Linked DNA regions of Homo sapiens: region 2 is linked to region 1. Evidence: fine-mapped expression QTL. A gene starts in region 1. The other region holds a variant in brackets. All regions are shown on one strand. Distances are between the middles of the regions. Region 1 holds the start of VNN2 (vanin 2). Region 2 has its middle 18 kb from the start of VNN1.

Region 1 (5,384 bases):
AGTGTTCAGACACTCAGTTGCAGACATTAAAAGAGAGCACAGACACATGTGCTGTTTTAGGTATAAAGGAAAGACTCTGGAATCAGGAATGAGAAGCGAACATCCTGCTCTGTCGCTCTAGCTCTCTATGCCTCAGATTCCTATCCTGTAATAAGTGGGCATTTGGGTTACATGATTTCTAAACTCTAACAGCACTCATAATCTATTATATACCAATCACCTATGCTAATTTACTAATTATACACTAGATAGTATGGTTATATACTAACAGTCTATTATACAATCTGCTAAAAATTCATAAAAATATCTATCCCTTTACATTTTCCACAAAAGGGCTTGACCATTTTTCCTGAATTATTTTTAGTTTTCTGCTCTATAGAGATAAGAAAAGTTATTCCTTTAATAGAAACTTCTATTCAAAGCAGAAAATATGAGCAGATCTTATTTATAGCCCCTAGGCCCCATTCTTAACAAAACATTTATCTCAGTAAGAAGGAAAGCACAGAATAAACTTTGTTTAATCGTACCTACTCTTCTATGCTGTCTAAAAGCATTTCCGTGACTTTTACCAAAGGGCTGGATAAAAATAAAACAAATCCTTTATTTGGCAGGATTGGGCCTGGGGAAGGGAGAATATGAATGTCCTAAGAAGGCATCTGAGATCACATCCTGTATTTGTTGTTATTATTGTTTTTTTTTTTTTTTTTTTTTTTGAGACGGAGTTTCGCTCTGTCGCCCAGCCTGGAGCGCAATGGTGTGATCTCAGCTCACTGCAGCCTCTGCCTCCTGGGTTCCAGCGATTCTCCTGCCTCAGCCTCCCGAGTAGCTGGGATTACAGGCGCCCACCACCACGACCAGCTACTTTTTGTGTTTTTGGTAGAGATGGGGGGTTCCACTATGTTGGCCAGGCTGGTCTTGAACTCCTGACCTCAGGTGATCTGCCTGCCTCGGCCTCCCAAAGTGCTAGGATTACAGGCATGAGCCACTGCACCTGGCCTGTTAGCATTGTTTTTAAACTCATTGTTGTTATTTGCTGCTAACAAAAATGTAAGTTACATCTTCTCCTTATTACAACACAGATGATCTTTATCACCAATCCTGGACTCTTCCCCTTCCCTGGCATCTTCCTCCAAAGCAGGGGGTGGGGAGGGAGGAAAAAGAAGGAGGAGAAGGAGTAGGAGGAGAAGGAGAAGTAGGGGGAGGATGGGGAGGGAAGGGTGAAAGAGAGAAAGAAGGAAAGAAGCGGAGTATCCTGAGGCCTGGGGCCCCTGAGCTGAGATTCCTCCTCTGGCCTAGGTGCCTCGGGGTATTGTTGCTGTAGGCACTAACTATACAGCAGTGAACAAACCAGACACAAAATCCTGCTTTTCTGGAGCACATGTTTTCAGTCCTTAATAGCAATAAGTAAGTCAGAGTGTAGATTTGGGTAAATTTTGTTATCAATATTGTCCTGTGTTACATTTTCTTAGTAGTAAGTATTTAATATTTTCCCCCCCGTCTAAAAATAAACACAATGTAAGTGACTCAACAGAACCAAAAAAATTGTTGTCAATTTTTAAATTTAATAAATGAGATATTTGTTGGGATGTGATTTTTTTACACGAGAGTTAGTTATGAGTTTCTATTAACAAAAGCTGGAATTGTTCTATATTTGAATTCGGGTGTCTTTTGGAAATTCAATATTAAATCTTAGTACTAATAGTACATGCTGTTCAATCCCTGTAATACTTTCTGATTGTCTTAAATGGACTGCAACTTTTCTTTCTTTAAAAGTGGTCAGATATATTGCGTTCTTAAGATTATAAAGTAGGCCAAGTGCAGTGGCTCACGCCTGTAATCCCAGCACTTTGAGAGGCTGAGGTGGATGGATCACAAGATCAGGAGTTTGAGACCAGCCTGGCCAATATTGTGAAACCCCATCTCTACTAAAAATACAAAAATTAGCTGGACGTGGTGGCGCGCACCTGTAGTCCTAGCTGTTTCAGAGACTGAAGAAGGACAATCGCTTGAACCTGGGAGGTGGAAGTTGTAGTGAGCTGAGCTTGCGCCACTGCATTCCAGCCTGGGTGACAGAGCAAACTCCGCCTCAAAAAAAAAAAAAAAAAAAAAAAAGAAGAAGAAGAAGAAGAAGAAGAAGAAGAAGAAGAAGAAAAATGATGATAAAGTAAAAGGCCAGTAACTGGCAGCCACATGTTATGCAAACATTCTCCCCTCTGTAAATACTACATGAATGTTATTTTTGCTTTCAGAAATCACTAAACCTTGGCCATGGTCACTTCCTCTTTTCCAATCTCTGTGGCAGTTTTTGCCCTAATAACCCTGCAGGTTGGTACTCAGGACAGTTTTATAGCTGCAGTGTATGAACATGCTGTCATTTTGCCAAATAAAACAGAAACACCAGTTTCTCAGGAGGATGCCTTGAATCTCATGAACGAGAATATAGACATTCTGGAGACAGCGATCAAGCAGGCAGCTGAGCAGGTATTCTCTTATTTCTGTTAATCATAATGTACACGAGGGGCATGGGAGCTGGTGGAAGACGAGAGAGCTGAATTGTCTGTGTTGTACATGGAAAAATCATTTTTATTTTGCTTGTTTTGAACAGGGTGCTCGAATCATTGTGACTCCAGAAGATGCACTTTATGGATGGAAATTTACCAGGGAAACTGTTTTCCCTTATCTGGAGGATATCCCAGACCCTCAGGTGAACTGGATTCCGTGTCAAGACCCCCACAGGTATTTTAACTATCTTAGTCTTTTGTGCAAAAGTAACTCTCTAAAATGCGCACGTTCACCAAAGCAAAATGATTGCTCTTGAATTACCATATATGTGGTATATGTTATGGTTATATTTATCTCAACATTTGTCAGATTTTAAAAAATTGTACTTAGATACTATTTAACAATCTTTTGTGATTGAAAATCTTTATTAAATTTTGAGAAAATGTGTAAATAGGGTATTCCTGCAAGAAAAACTAAGGGAAGAGATCTCATAGATACAAGTAGTAACTTAATTTCTGAAGTAGACAGTGGATTGTGTTAGGAATACATTCCAAAGCCTCTGCTGAAGGGACACCCTTTCAATGTTATAGAGTCTCTCCATTCCAGAGTTGCTTCTTAGGCAGAAAGACTTCACCATGTATTTTCAAGTGAATCATAAGACCTTATGCTTTGAAACTGCATTTTCCTAGGCTCACAAATCTAATTTTCCTGGGAAAAGGTTATCTAGAAACCTTCTAATATATATTAAAAATCTGGGTCCTACTGTCATCCTGGAGGTGTCAACGTGGCAGTTGCATGGACAAGTCTGGCATGAAAAGACAAAATTATATCTGGAGATAGAAAATCAAATGTCAGCATATAGATGGTGTTAAACACCATGATGAGTTCACCTGTGGAGTGAGTTAGAGAAGAGTTTAGGTATAAGGCTTGAGCACTAGGAAATTCTAGTGTTTAGACTCGGAAGAAAACGAGGAATCAGCAGAAGAGTCGAAGAAGAGCAACCAATAAATAGGAAAATGAGAGGGTGGGTCCAATAGAGAAGTGAGGTGTTTCCAGAAGGAGGTGTAATTAACTGTGCCAACTGCTGTTGAAAAGTTAAGATGAGATCAGGTAAAATGTGGGGGTCACTGCTGGCATTAGTAAGAGTTTGGGTGATAGAGATACAAGTTGGAGTGCTCTGAAAGGGAATGGGAGAGGAGGAACTGGCAACAGCAAGAGGGACTGATCTTTTGAGGAGTTTTGCTTTAAGAGAGAGATGAGGATTAAAGCAATATTTGGAAGGGCATGTTTGGAAAGGTCAAAAGAGGTTTTAATTTTATTTTTTAAAGATGGGAGGTACTAGAGGATATTTCATTGCTGATGGGATGTTTCAGTAGAGAGGAGACCCTTGATGAGGCAGGAGACCGAATAATGAATTTCTGGAGCAATAGATACCGTGTGGGAAGCATTCATCAAGTGTATAATCATCTGTGGCTTTTAAAGTATGATATTTTTAGGCATAGTTTTTGTATTAACTTAAGTTCCACTTAAGTGGTTACAGTTGCTATCGTTTCCATATAAAGTGACTAAAATATTTTTTTAAAATTGAAATTTCTTAATTATAATTTGGTTTAGATTTGGTCACACACCAGTACAAGCAAGACTCAGCTGCCTGGCCAAGGACAACTCTATCTATGTCTTGGCAAATTTGGGGGACAAAAAGCCATGTAATTCCCGTGACTCCACATGTCCTCCTAATGGCTACTTTCAATACAATACCAATGTGGTGTATAATACAGAAGGAAAACTCGTGGCACGTTACCATAAGGTAAGAGAGAGTGACGGACGTGTAAAATGGAGCGTGTTGTGAGTGGTCAATGCTGGGTTTAGGAGTTTGAATTTCATTCCCTATATGATACAATATTACTAGAGGGTTTTTTTGTTTTGTTTTGTTTTTTGTTTTTTGAAAGTGGGCAATAAAGAAAATGACACTTTTGGCTGGGCGTGGAGGCTTATGCCTGTAAGCCCAGCACTTTGGGAGGCTGAGGCAGGTGGATCACTTGAGGCCAGGAATTTGAGACCAGTCTGGCCAACATTGTGAAACCCCGTCTCTACTAAAAAATACAAAAATTAGCGGGGCGTGATGGCACATGCCTGTAGTCCCAGCTATGTGGGAGCTGAAGCAGGAGACTTGCTTGAACCCAGGAGGTGGAGGCTGCAGTGAGCCGAGATTGTGTCACTGCACTCCAGCCTGGGTGACAGAGGGAGACTCTCAAAAAAAAAAAAAGAAAAAAAAGAAAAAGAAAAAAGAAAATGACACGTTGTAAAAAACTACTCAGAAAAACATGTAGGCAGAGAACTGTTAAAAAAAAAAAAAAGTAGCATGATGGTCCAGGATTGAGATAAACTTTTTGCACATATAAAACAAATAATTTTAACATAAAAAAAGATACTAAGGTGACTATAATCTGGGCACTGTTTCAATAATTTTATATTTTTTTAGAGACAGGGTCTCACTGTTGCCCAGGCTGGAGTGCAGTGGAGCCATCATGGCTCACTGTTAACCTCAAACTCCTGGGCTCTAGTGATCCTCCTGCCTCAGCCTCCCAAGTAGCTGAGACTGTAGGCATGTGCCACCATGCTAATTTTTAAATATTTTTTTGGAAACAGAGTCTCACTACATTGCCCAGGCTGTCTTTGAACTCTTCACCTCAAGCAGTCCTCCCACCTTGGCCTCCCAAAATGCTGAGATTAGAGGCATGAGCCACTGAGCACAGCCATAATCTAAATACTATTTAATATTGAAATGGTAGAAAGATGTTTCAAAATTGTATGAATCAGCTTTGCATAAGTTAATTTGCTATCAAACCACAAAATACCTTATTTTCTACACCAGCTAATTT
Region 2 (5,384 bases), 25 kb after region 1:
CTTGCACAACATCCTTTCTCAATGCTGTGTTGTGTAATATATGTGCAAGAAAATATAAACAGCTGATTGCCAGGAGGGATTTAATGTAAAGTTTTTCCAGTGAAACAAAACGTAAGAATCTGAGTTTGTTTTTCAAAGATCACTAAATTTTAGTTATGATTATATCACATTTTCCAAAATGTGTGGCAGTTTTTGCCCTCCTTGCTCTGAGTGTTGGTGCACTGGACACTTTTATTGCTGCAGTATATGAGCATGCGGTGATATTACCAAACAGAACAGAAACACCTGTTTCAAAAGAAGAAGCTTTGCTCCTGATGAACAAGAACATAGATGTTTTGGAGAAAGCAGTTAAGCTGGCAGCGAAGCAGGTATTACCCTTTTATACTTGTAAAGGAGACTTGCAGTTTGGTCAAAGAGTATTTGGAATTCATGACAAACTTTTTTGCCCCACTTGTTTCGAGCAGGGTGCACATATCATTGTGACCCCAGAAGATGGAATCTATGGTTGGATCTTCACCAGGGAGAGCATTTACCCCTATCTAGAGGATATACCAGACCCTGGAGTGAACTGGATTCCATGTAGAGACCCCTGGAGGTAATATCATATCATTAATTTCTAAACAAAAAGTTGTGATTTGGTAAAACACCAACAGTAAACTCACTGAATTTGACTGGTAATTGTGTTGATAAATAGTCAATCTGTGGCATAGGATGTAGATGCTTTTTTTTCCCTGTAATTTCAACTTTTAGCTTAGATTGAGGGAGTACATGTGCAGGTTTGTTACATGGGCAAATTGCATGACGCTGAGGATTGGGGTACAATGATTGCACCACCCAGCATAGTATACAACAGGAAGGTTTTCAGCCCTTGCCTTCCTCTCTCTCTCTCCCCTCTATTAGTTCCCAGTGTCTATTGCTGTCATCTTTATGGCCATGAGTTCCCAATGCTTAGCTCCCACTTATAAGTGAGAACATGCAGTATTTGGTTTTCTGTTCCTGTGTTAACTTGCTGAGGATAATGTCCTTTGGTGCTGCAAAAGACATGATTTTGTTCCTTCTTGTGGGCACCTAGGTTAATTCCATATCTTTGCTGTTGTGAAAAGTGCTGCGATGAACATACAAGTGCACGAGTCTTTTTGGTAGAATGATTTCCTTTCCTTTGGGTATATACCTAGTAATGGGATTGTGAGTCGAATGGTTGCTGTGTTTTAAGTTCTCTGAGAAATCTCCAAACTGCTTTCCACAATGGCTGAACTAATTTACATTTCCACCAATAGTGTGTAAGTGTTCCCCTTTCTCCATAGCATCTTTTATTATTTGACTTTTTGTTAACAGTCATTCTGACTGGTGTGAGATGATATCTCATTGTGGTTTTGCTTGGCATTTCTCTGATGATAAGTGATGTTGAGTGTTTGTTCACGTGTTTTTTGGCCACTTGTATGTCCTCTTTTGAGAAGTGTCTGTTCATGTCTTTTGCCCACTTTTCAATGGGGTTATTTGTTTTGTTTTTGCTTATTGATTTAAGTTCCTTATGGATTCTGGATAGTAGACCTTTGTTAGATGCCTAGTTTGCAAATATTTTCTCCCATTCTGTAGGTTGTCTATTTACTCTGTTGATAGTTGCTTTTGCTGTACAGAGCTCTTTAGTTAAATTAGGTCCTACATGTCAAGTTTTGTTTTTGTTGCAATTGCTTTTGAGGACTTAGTCATAAATTATTTTCCAAGGTTCATGTCCAGAATGGTGTTTCTTAGATTTTCTTCTAGGATTCTTATAGTTTGAGGTCATACATTTAAATCTTTAATACATCTTGAGTTAATTTTTGTACATGGTGAAAGATAGGGGTCCAGTTTCAATCTTCTGCATATGGCTAGCCAGATATTCCAGCACCTTTTGTTGAATAAGGAGTCCTTTCCCCATACTTATTTTTGTGAACTTTGTTTGAGCTACAGATGGCTGTAGGTGTGCGGCTTTGTTTCTAGGCTCTCTATTCTGTTCTATTGGTCTATGTGTCTGTTTTTCTAACAGTACCATGTTGTTTTGATTACTGTAGCCTTGGGTAATGTGATGCCTCAGGCTTTGTTCTTTTTGTTTAGGATTGGTTTGGCGATTCAGGCTCTTTTTTGGTTCCATATGAATTTTAGAAATTTTGTTTATAAATCTGTGAAAAAATGACATTGGTAGTATGTTAGAAATAGTGTTGAGGCTGGGTGCTGTGGGTCATGCCTATAATCCCAGCACTTTGGGAGGCCAAGGCAGGTGGATTACTTGAGATTAGGAGTTTGAGACCAGCCTGGCCAACGTGGTAAAACCCCATCTCTACTAAAATACAAAAATTAGCTGGGTGTGGTGGTGTGTGCCTGTAATCCCAGCTACTCGGGAGGCTAAGGCATGAGAATTGCTTGAACGATAGAGTGAGACTCTGTCTCAAAAAAAAAAAAAAAAAAAAAAGAAGAAAAGAAATAGTGTTGAATCTGCAGATACTGCTTATGTTTCATAGTGTATATCATCTGGCATATCTCCTGTTTGGTAAATGACTTGAGATACTGATGACTAGTTGGTTATTTGTTGCAATTGTCTTTCAACAATAGTAGGTGTGACCAGGCGTGGTGGCTCACACTTGTAATCCCATCACTGTGGGAAGCCAAAGCAGGAGGACTGCTTGAAGCCAGAAGTTTGAGACCAGCCTGCGCAGCAAAGCCAGACCCTATTTCGGCAAATAAAAAATTTAGCCAGGTGTGGTGGCTCACACCTATAATCCCAGCTACTCGAGAGGCTGAA[G/A]CAGGAGGATCACTGGGGCCCAGGAGTTTGAGGCTGCAGTGAGCTATGATTGCACCACTGCACTCCAGCCTGGGTGACAGTAAGACCTTGTCTTAAAAAAATAGTAGGTATAGGCCGGGTGTGGTGGCTCACGCCTGTAATCCCAGAACTTTAGGAGGTGGAGGTGGGCAAATCACCTGAGGTCAGGAGTTCGAGACCAGCCTGGCCAACATGGTGAAACCCCATCTCTACTAAAAAATACAAACATTAGCTGGGTGTGGTTGTGCATGCCTATAATCCCAGCTACTCGGGAGACTGAGGCAGGAGAACTACTTGAACCCAGGAGGCAGAGGTTGCAGTGAGCCGAGATCACGCCACTGCACTCCAGACTGGGCAACAGAGTGAGACTCCATCTCGAAAAAAAAATAGTAGGTATATACACAATTTTTATAGTAAATGTGTTTAATTGGGTTTGAACAAAGTGAAAAAGTTGGAATATCTAGAACCTGTGTCCCAAATACAAGTAAGTTGGTTCATCCATGGACACCTGCCTCCTTCACAGGAAGAGTAAAAAGATGAATGAGCCTGTTTCCAAAGAGCTTTGCTATCACTGTCATTCAGAATGCAATCAATATGGCCAATGGAAATTGTATAGGACTTGAAAAAGGAAGCCCTACTTCTGGGACCACATTTTACGACCACCTAGCTGAGTGATGTAAGCGTATAACCTAAATGCTTAACATTTCTGTTTCATTATCTGTAAAACAGGGATAATAGAGTCCCTTAATTCTCTTACAGATCAGACAAGAGTAATGAAGTAATACACATGGAATTTGTACATTGTGATGCACTCTCCAATGCTAGCTGTCACTATTCCTTTTTTTTTTTTGTTAACAGAAGGGACTGAGTCTGAACTTCTTTGTGTTCTTGTCCTTTGAGAGACTTTAGTAATTATTAGTAGATGTAATTTAGGCATAACTTTCTTAAAGAAAATATGCATAATAAATATGATATCTGTGAAATAGATTATTTTAGTTGTATTAACTTTTAAAAATAGTTTAAGATTATTTCTTTAAATGGCAAAATTGATGGGTTAAGAAGTCATTTAACTTGCTAATTTTAAATTTACATGCACCTGTTTAGAACTACACCTATTGTGCAAAAAGAGAAACTTCTTTGATAATTTTACCTATGTGAAATTAAGTGGAAAGTCATGCTTAATGGTACAACATTCAGGCTCAGCTATGTGAGTCAAACCTCACTCTGGGATTTTGCCCTTTGGAAAAATATTCTCTAAACATTGCATGGTCTGTGTTTACAGAAACCATGTCACTATGATTCAACATCTACTTGCTTATGAGGCGTTTCCCAGAACAGGAAGGAATCATTATTTGCTGCAGTTGATGAGGCTTACACGAAAATGTACTGTATTTGACTGGGCTAATGAAACTGACTTTTCCAGGGAAAATATATCCATAAATTTGATAATTAGCTATCGATAAATTATTTTAAGTTGGGAAAGTAGGTGACTGATGAAATGTCAACATTATGAACTCTTACACCTACTTATTCAAATGACAACGTTTCAGTTTTGTGTTACAGAAAGGAGAAATCCAGTATTTAATATAATGATAATATTGGAAAAGAAAGTCAGTTTTCTCCCTGGTGATATTTATCCCTGAAGAGAATAGTAGAGAGGCATGCGGTCATCCTTGTGCATTTAAATATTTAGAATGCTGACATGTCAAACAGTTCCATGGGCTTTTTTCACGAGTAACTAGTAGGAAATATTAAATAACTCAAATTATTTAGTCAAGAAAAGAAAAATTAAACAAAGTACATGATAAAGTTATTAAAGGTCTTAATGAATATGAATATTAATAGTACTTCTCTGTTTTTTTTAGAAGAAAATAAAAAGAAAAGGTCTAAACCAGTAGGCCATTAATCTGTCCTTTTTATTCAAAGGTTAGTTTAACCTCAATTGCAGAGGGGCTGTGAGTTCATAGAGAGACATGGAATGGCCTCTAATCACACAATCCATAATAGCAATTTTCATTTACTGAGCACTTACTTGGTCCCAAGAACTGTACCTGGTATACTATACCCATTATTACATTCAATTTATGTAGTTGGCATTACTATTTGCATTACAAATATGTGAAAAAAGGAAGGCTTATGATCTCATGATTGATCATTAGATTGGCTGGAATTAAAACAGCTATGTCATTTAACTGTGCTAACGGAATGGACTCTAAGGGCCTAGATGAACCATATTATAATAAAATTTTTAGTGACTAGCAAATCCACTTATTTAACAGAGTGAGCTGGTTGCTAAACATTTTTTGTCTTATTTTCTGCTGAAATCTGCCTCACTTTAACTTCCTTTCGTCTTTTTCCTGCATTCTATGCTATGTTCACACATATGACCCATCTCCTATAAATTAAGCCTTTCAAATATTTGAAGCCAGCTATCACCATGCTACATTCTCTTCTTATACCAAGGATAAATATCTTTAATATGGATGGACTTGGTAAAACAATTTCATGTCTGTACTTATCTCAGGATTTCTCATGTGGATCCACTAAGGCAGAAAGGAAGCTATTGTTTTACATTTGACAGATGAAG

The links.
Region 2: its variant is fine-mapped to the expression of VNN2 in whole blood (INTERVAL, PIP 0.99).

Annotation. Positions count from the first base shown.
Region 1 is chr6:132,754,768-132,760,151 of GRCh38, reverse strand. It overlaps VNN2 (vanin 2), which reads left to right and starts at 2,248. Exons shown (of 7, transcript NM_004665.6): 1 at 2,248-2,481; 2 at 2,606-2,736; 3 at 4,117-4,309. The coding sequence starts at 2,269.
Region 2 is chr6:132,729,464-132,734,847 of GRCh38, reverse strand. It overlaps the pseudogene VNN3P. Among named protein-coding and RNA genes, the nearest start is that of VNN1, 18 kb to the right of the region's middle. The variant G/A (reference allele first, on the strand shown) is at 2,780.